2 linked regions of the Homo sapiens genome follow. The protein of the gene in region 2 purifies or fractionates together with the protein of the main gene of each other region. This does not show direct contact. Each region holds a gene or a part of one and is shown on either strand. Other genes may lie near its edges.

The links.
Region 1: the proteins of OPRD1 (region 2) and GJA4 purify together in Homo sapiens (affinity purification with western blotting, with the first as the bait; one study listed by BioGRID). This does not show direct contact.

The regions. Positions count from the first base shown.
Region 1 is NC_000001.11:34,791,675-34,796,055, forward strand, and holds GJA4 (gap junction alpha-4 protein), read left to right. Parts: upstream 1-1,324; 5' UTR 1,325-1,394; exon of another isoform or gene 1,395-1,672; intron 1,673-2,427; exon of another isoform or gene 2,428-2,522; 5' UTR 2,523-2,539; coding exon 2,540-3,541; 3' UTR 3,542-4,073; downstream 4,074-4,381. UniProt on the Homo sapiens protein: One gap junction consists of a cluster of closely packed pairs of transmembrane channels, the connexons, through which materials of low MW diffuse from one cell to a neighboring cell.
Region 2 is NC_000001.11:28,867,601-28,871,406, reverse strand, and holds the end of OPRD1 (delta-type opioid receptor), read right to left. Parts: 3' UTR 140-3,806; downstream 1-139. UniProt on the Homo sapiens protein: G-protein coupled receptor that functions as a receptor for endogenous enkephalins and for a subset of other opioids.

The sequences.
Region 1 (4,381 bases), 5.9 Mb from region 2:
AACTTTATGTACCACTATTACACTATGTGCTTTGATCACACTGTATGCCATCAACCCCACAAAGTAGATACTATCACTATTCTCATTCTGTAGAGGAAGAAATTGAGGCACAGGGATTTGAGTAACTTGCCTAAGGGTACAGGAGTCAACAGCAAAGTCTCAGCTCCTGGGCTCAGCCACCAACAACGTCTCAGCACTCCGAGGGCAGTGGCCACAGTCTCAGAACCCCACAGCTCCAGGCCCTCGAGCCACACTCATGCCGCCCCTCTACCTAGAATGCTCTTCCCTTCCACTTGGCTAATGGAGGGGGAAAAGCATTTCCTCTCCTCCAGGAAATGTTCCTAACCAAGTCCCCTGGGAATCACCCAGTACCTCTCAGGAGAACTTTCCACATTTATTATCTTACCGTTATCCAAGGGCTGATATGCTCAATCCCTGCACCAGCCAGTGAGGGAGGAGGCCAGAGACCAAGTTTGGCTGGTTCCTCAGGGTATCCCCAGGTCCCCAAGCAGCGTCTGCAGCACAGCAGATGCTCACTGATGCTCATCCACCTGTGATGCCTGAATGCATGAAGGCAGGCTCCGCATAGCCCTTTCATTCCTATGGATGTCCCCCACACCACCCAGCCACCATTTAGAGGCATAAGAACGGGGTCCAAGCTAAAGGTCAGGTGGTTCCCCCACCCCCAGTCTCAAGGAGTCCATGGGAATTGCTTAATGGCCTCTGATTGTGTAGCCTGCCCAGACATGGGGATGTTTGAGAATTCTGGAAGAACGTGGGCTGGGCGTGGATAGAGACGCCTGCTCCACCATGTATGCTGGAGGTGTGGATTACAACCCCTGTCCCCCATTGGAGCTTCCCGCGCCGTAATTAGCCTTGATCGCCTCATCCTGGCACACTAGGGCCAGCCACCTAGCAAATGAGTGGTCCCCACACTCCATCCCCATCCGCCCACCCCTCACAGCCCCGCAGGCCAGTTGCCCAGATCCACAGCCCTTACTGCAACCCCTTCAAATCCAGCCACCCTGAGAGATCCTGGCCTGGGAGAACTCTCCTTCCCTGGCCAAAGAAACGACAGGAGAGTTTACTGTCTGGAATACCTGGTGGAGAGAGAACAGAGGAGAGGAAGGGTAGGTCAGCCCCTCTTGCCCCTCCCCACCGCAAATCACACAGGCCCACCTCCCCGGAGTGGGTTTAGGGAGTCTGCACCTCCCAGTCCCCGCCCCCGCCCTCTCTCCAGCGCCCGCCGCCCTCCCCGTCGCGTTTCCTGCCCCCACCCCGCCCCTCTGCGCTATTTAAGGCGCCCCCGCCGCTCGTGCGGTCCAGCAGGGCTCCCGCGGGCGTCACTCCGGCCATCGTCCCCACCTCCACCTGGGCCGCCCGGCAGGCAGGCGGTGAGTCGGGGGCTAGGAAGGGACCAGGGGCGCCACCTGCTCGCGGGAGGCCGGGAGGAGTCTTGGGTCCTCCGATGCCGGGACGGGGGTTGCTGCGGAACGCCCGCCGCGACAGAGCCGCGCTCACCCAGGTGGCCTTGGCCAGGCTCCCACCCTCTTTCCATGGAATCCTTGTAACAACCCGAGGCGGGAGGAATACTATTGTTTCCACTCTATCGTGGAGGAGACTGAGGGGCCCAGAGGTTGTTCCTTATCCAAGGGGCCGCAGTTACTAAAAGGCAAGATTTGAACCCAGGGCCGCTTCCAGAGCCTGGCTCTAAACAGCTTTGCACTTGGGAAGAGGCACCTCCCCCTTGGGAACTTTGTGGCCTGTGCCTCACCCTGCAATGACAATTCCTTTCAAGAGTCTAGAATTTGCCAGCATCAGCTTTGGAGGTGGAAGGGGGTGGGAGTGGAGGTGGAGGAAGAAGACAGGACCAAATGTCCCTCCTCAAGTGGCAGGTGGTCATTATTGCTGACCGGTGGAGCTAAAGGATGATGCTGCCTTCAGCTCCTAAAACCCCTTCCACTACCCAGCCCCTGCAGGCTCAAAGATTAGAGTGAAGCCAGCTGGGTAAGATATGAGGCGGGGAGCAGGGACCTGAGGCTTTGAGCCCCCTAAGAAGCAGAAGATAACACCTCTACCATCATCACTAGCTCCCACTGTCTGGGGGTAGCCAGCCTTGGGCAAAAGGGAGGAAGGGCTTAGCCCAGCTGCACAACTTTGGATAAGTTCCTCAAATTCTGTTCCCATAGGCAAAGGAGCCTCAACTCCACCCAGATTTCCTTGGCCTGTGTCCATCCTGGGGCAGTGGCTCGGGGACAAGAGGGACATAGATGTCTGATTAGGCAGGGACCTTAGCCAAAGCAGAATGAGACCATACAAAGAGGTGGGCAGCCATCATCCAAAAATCTGGGTTGGGTCCTGCCTGCACTGCTGAGTGGGAGCCTCCAGGCCAGTCCTTCCCCTTCCTGAGCCTGGGTTTCTTTGTAGGTAGAACGGGCGTGGCAGACCTCCCTGCAGGCTTGTTGCTGGGCGAACGAGAAGGATGCCATGCTGACACACTGACGTGCTCTGTCTCCTTGCAGACGGAGGCCCGGGAGCCATGGGTGACTGGGGCTTCCTGGAGAAGTTGCTGGACCAGGTCCAGGAGCACTCGACCGTGGTGGGTAAGATCTGGCTGACGGTGCTCTTCATCTTCCGCATCCTCATCCTGGGCCTGGCCGGCGAGTCAGTGTGGGGTGACGAGCAATCAGATTTCGAGTGTAACACGGCCCAGCCAGGCTGCACCAACGTCTGCTATGACCAGGCCTTCCCCATCTCCCACATCCGCTACTGGGTGCTGCAGTTCCTCTTCGTCAGCACACCCACCCTGGTCTACCTGGGCCATGTCATTTACCTGTCTCGGCGAGAAGAGCGGCTGCGGCAGAAGGAGGGGGAGCTGCGGGCACTGCCGGCCAAGGACCCACAGGTGGAGCGGGCGCTGGCGGCCGTAGAGCGTCAGATGGCCAAGATCTCGGTGGCAGAAGATGGTCGCCTGCGCATCCGCGGAGCACTGATGGGCACCTATGTCGCCAGTGTGCTCTGCAAGAGTGTGCTAGAGGCAGGCTTCCTCTATGGCCAGTGGCGCCTGTACGGCTGGACCATGGAGCCCGTGTTTGTGTGCCAGCGAGCACCCTGCCCCTACCTCGTGGACTGCTTTGTCTCTCGCCCCACGGAGAAGACCATCTTCATCATCTTCATGTTGGTGGTTGGACTCATCTCCCTGGTGCTTAACCTGCTGGAGTTGGTGCACCTGCTGTGTCGCTGCCTCAGCCGGGGGATGAGGGCACGGCAAGGCCAAGACGCACCCCCGACCCAGGGCACCTCCTCAGACCCTTACACGGACCAGGTCTTCTTCTACCTCCCCGTGGGCCAGGGGCCCTCATCCCCACCATGCCCCACCTACAATGGGCTCTCATCCAGTGAGCAGAACTGGGCCAACCTGACCACAGAGGAGAGGCTGGCGTCTTCCAGGCCCCCTCTCTTCCTGGACCCACCCCCTCAGAATGGCCAAAAACCCCCAAGTCGTCCCAGCAGCTCTGCTTCTAAGAAGCAGTATGTATAGAGGCCTGTGGCTTATGTCACCCAACAGAGGGGTCCTGAGAAGTCTGGCTGCCTGGGATGCCCCCTGCCCCCTCCTGGAAGGCTCTGCAGAGATGACTGGGCTGGGGAAGCAGGTGCTTGCTGGCCATGGAGCCTCATTGCAAGTTGTTCTTGAACACCTGAGGCCTTCCTGGTGCCCACCAGGCACTACGGCTTCCTCTCCAGAATGTGGCTTTGCCTGAGCACAGACAGAGTCAGCATGGAATGCTCTTGGCCAAGGGTACTGGGGGCCCTCTGGCCTTTTGCAGCTGATCCAGAGGAACCCAGAGCCAACTTACCCCAACCTCACCCTATGGAACAGTCACCTGTGCGCAGGTTGTCCTCAAACCCTCTCCTCACAGGAAAAGGCGGATTGAGGCTGCTGGGTCAGCCTTGATCGCACAGACAGAGCTTGTGCCGGATTTGGCCCTGTCAAGGGGACTGGTGCCTTGTTTTCATCACTCCTTCCTAGTTCTACTGTTCAAGCTTCTGAAATAAACAGGACTTGATCACAAGTAGGTGTGTATTGATGCTATCATGATGTGCTGGGGGTTGGGGGATAGAGTTATTTTGCCCAGGCTTCCTTTACTTCTTGGTCCTGTATAATCTCTTTGGTCTCTATAACCCCCGATTCCAGCCAACACCTTGAACCCTCAAACTCATACCTTCTGCCTCCAACAGCCCTGATTTCTAAATGCTCTGCCTTTTGAAATGCCTCAGACACTATCTTCTTTTCATCCCCACTGCTCCAGCGCATTAATCAGTGGTCAAAGCATAAACGTCCTTGCCCTCCCTCCCCCATGCCCATCGTCGCCCTGGCCAC
Region 2 (3,806 bases):
TTAAGGACAACATTGCCTCTCCCTCTGAGACACATCCTCAGGGCAGAGCCAGACTTCCCCATAGGCTTATGTGATCCCCCAGACTGGGGGCCCCTTACAAGGGAACCTGGCAGAGGTAAGCAAACAAAACAGCCAGAGATGCAGACACCGAGAAGAGGGCTCACTTTATTGAGAAAACAGAAGGTTGAGTACTTGGTACCAAGATGGAGCCTGGGGTAGGCAAAAAGCCTGAAAACAAAGCTTTAAGCTTCCTTTTTTACATGCCCGCCTCCCTGCCCCTAATTGGGGCAGCTCCTATTACAGACCCCCAGGCATTCTTTTCCCTGTCTCTGGGCAAATGCCCAGTAGATTTTACCAACAGATGTCTGTTTCTGGGACCCAGGAACATGAGGGAAGTGTCTCAGTTCTTTTCCAGGATGGCAGAGCCTTCAGAACCATCAACTCCTACCCCTCCATCGTGCAGAGGCCCAGAGAGGGACAGAGACCTGCCCAACACCACAGCAATGAAGTGGACAATGAAGATTCAAAACCACATTTGCGGTCTCCTCATTCCGAGAGGAGATTCTAGATGAGCCCCGTTACAGGAGTGTATTTGCACCGGCACACGCCAAGGGACTCCATCCCCATGACGCAGATGGCCCGGGACCTTCTTCCTTTCCAGGCTGTCCCTTCCTCTTGGGTCCCTGAGAGGGCAGTCCTGGTGAGGGCAGGAGAGGACAGCTAAGGCTAAGGAGCTTGGGAAAAGATGTCCTCTTAAGAACTGCTTTCCAGCACATGTTGTCCCACCTTCTGAAATTCAAGGAGATGGTTAAAAGAGAAAAGCCTTTCTCCGGACCCACCTGCAGCATTAAGAACCATGGGTTGGGCTGGGCACGGTGGCTCATGCCTGTAATCCTAGCACTTTGGGAGGCCGAGGTGGGTGGATCAGTTGAGGTCAGGAGTTCGAGACCAGCCTGGCCAACACGGCGAAACCCCGTCTCTACTAAAAATACAAAATTAGCCGGGCACGTGCCTGTAATCCCAGCTACTCAGCAGGCTGAGGCAGGAGAATTGCTTGAACCCGGGCGGCGGAGGTTGCAGTGAGCCGAGATCTCGCCATTGCACTTCAGCCTGGGTGACAGAGTGAGACTCTGTCTTAAAAAAAAAAAAAGAAAGAAAGAAAGAAAAAAAAAAAGAAGCATGGGTTGGTGCAGGCATGGCCTAAAACATTAGATAATATGAAAAAAGCTGCATTTTATTGGGCACTTACTATGCACCAGGGACATTGTTCATTAGCTCAGTAGATAACTACTGTGTGTCCATTTGCATTTCCTGGGAACACTTTCATGACCAAAACAGACAAGGTCCTTCACTCATAGCCTCTTTCTGAATCTTCTCAACTTCTCATCAGCTAAGTGCTGTCATCCATGACTGAGAAATGGCTCAGAGTGAAATGACATGCCCAAGGTCACAAGGCAACAACATGGCAGTCAGTCAGAAAATTATCAAACAAGCAGGACTTCCAAGGCAAGGAAGAAATGGATGGGGAGAGGGATCTACCAAGGTTACAGCAGTTTTTTGAGCAGCTGGCACGTGCCTCTGCTGCCAACATGATGAGGTACAGAACCCAGCACAGGGAATGCTCAGCCTGTGACTGTGAGCTGGATGTGAGAGTCTCCTGAGGACCCTCGGTATACTCAGAGCATTTCCTCTCAGGGTGCAGGAAGAGGAAAGCAGAGGAAGTGGACTTGAAGGACCAAAGGTGGGATCCTAGCTGAGCCAATCACTGAGAAGCCATGTGGTCTTGGGCAAGTCATTCCCTTCTCTGAGCCTCAGTTTCCCCATCTGTAAAATGGAGGTAATGATACTATGCCTACCTCATCATCATGCTGTGAAGATTAAATGAGTTATGCCATGGAAGTGCTGTACATTACCCATTGATAATGTCTCAGTGGCCTCTCAATGAAATGGAGTGTGACAGAGTGCCACACTCTGAAACGGCTCATCCCCGGTGATGGTGCTGGGACTAGAACCCGGGCAACCTCGCAGTGCCATGCCCTACTGCATCACTACGTCCACCTCGAGGGCCCCCTCCAGCTCCTCTCTAAGCCCCATTTTGAATTCCCAAGCTGCCTGCAGCCTGAACCACACAGCCATCTGTCACCCAACTCTCAATATCTGCAAGCTCAGCGTGGGGCGGCCAGGTCCTGATTTGCTCCCGTCACTCCTCCCGGCTCCCAGAAATAAAGGAATAAATACATGATGAAAGAGAGGCATCTGTATGTGTTTTGTGTGTGAGTGCAGGGGCCAGGATCTGGGTGCCAGGGATGGGGGGTGGTCACTTCCTAGGGGCTTTGGGGCCGCTGGGGCCGGCTTCAGTCTGGATCTGCAGCAGGTGTTAGTGGGAGCTGGCAGCCAGTAGTCATGCCCTAGGTGAGGGATCTGCGGCTGACACAAAGAGAGGGCTGGCCTTTGGACAGAGACCCAGCAGGTGCCCAGCCTGGACTGTTGTTCTTCCAAGTCCTCTCAGGATGCTAGTGGGCCCTCTCCAACTTGAGGAGCATTTCTTTTTAATTTTTTTTTTTTTTCAGACAGAGTCTCGCTCTGTCGCCCAGGCTGGAGTACAGTGGCAAGATCTTGGCTCACTGTAACCTCTGCTTCCTGGGTTCAGGCGATTCTCCCGCCTCAGCCTCCTGAGTAGCTGGGATTACAGGTGCACGCCACCACGCCTGGCTAATTTTTGTGTTTTTAGTACAGACAGGGTTTCACCATGTTGGTCAGGCTGGTGTTGAACTCCTGACCTCATGATCCACCCGCCTTGGCCTCCCAAAGTGCTAGGATTACAGGCGTGAGCCACTGCACCCAGCCCTTGAGGAGCATTTCTAATTCCAAGCCCAGCAAGCCTCCTTAGAGCAGCTGCCTCTGGCACACGTGTAATTATCAGAGAATAAGCCTGTATCGAGGCCCCACTATGTGCCAGGCACTTTGGTGGCACTTTGCTTACCATATCTCTAGCTTTCAGAGAGTGCTCTCGTGGAGGTGAAGTGACTTGCCTAAGATCACACTGCTAGCACGTGGCCAAGAATTCGGCAAAGCTAGGACTCTTATTAAGTGAGGCTGATGATCGTATTAGAGATGGACCAATTCCCACATCTCAACTCTAGAAGGAAACTGAAGCTCAGAGAAGGCAAATCCCTTGTCTAGGTCACACAGCCAGTTAGCTTGAGAGCTGGGATTTGATCCAGGCTTGGGGGCTGCCTGGGCCATGTAAAAAACTAAATTGGAGAGCTCCCATCACCCTCCTGCCCTCCCTACTCGCATCCTCTCTTATGACACTTGACATTATCCATCACTCCCTCCTCCTGGGAACGCCCTCCTCCTCCAGTTTCCATGGTAGCACATTCTCTCCATCCTCCTCCTGCTTCTCTGGCAGCTTCTCACTCTCCATGGTGGCTCCTGGGCCAGGAAGCAAGGGGATCCCCAAGCTGGATCTCCAGTCTCTTCTCTCTCTCCATCACTAGCCCCGACAGCTCACCTACTCTTCCCTGTAGGTCTCTAGCTCTGACCCTGAACCCTGGCTCCACTTGTAAGCAGTGACTGCCACTTACCATGTACTTAGAGTTTACTTACGTTCTGGGCCTTATCCCTATACATACATTAAATCCTCACAACCACCCGTGAAGGAAGTCTACTCTACAGATGAGGAAACTGAGGCTCAGAGAGGGAAAACCAAGATCTGATTCCAGGCTTAACCACTACTTCTACTGCATCAAGACGAGGTATGAGAGCTGGGCACAGTGGCTCACACCTGTAAACCCAGTACTTTG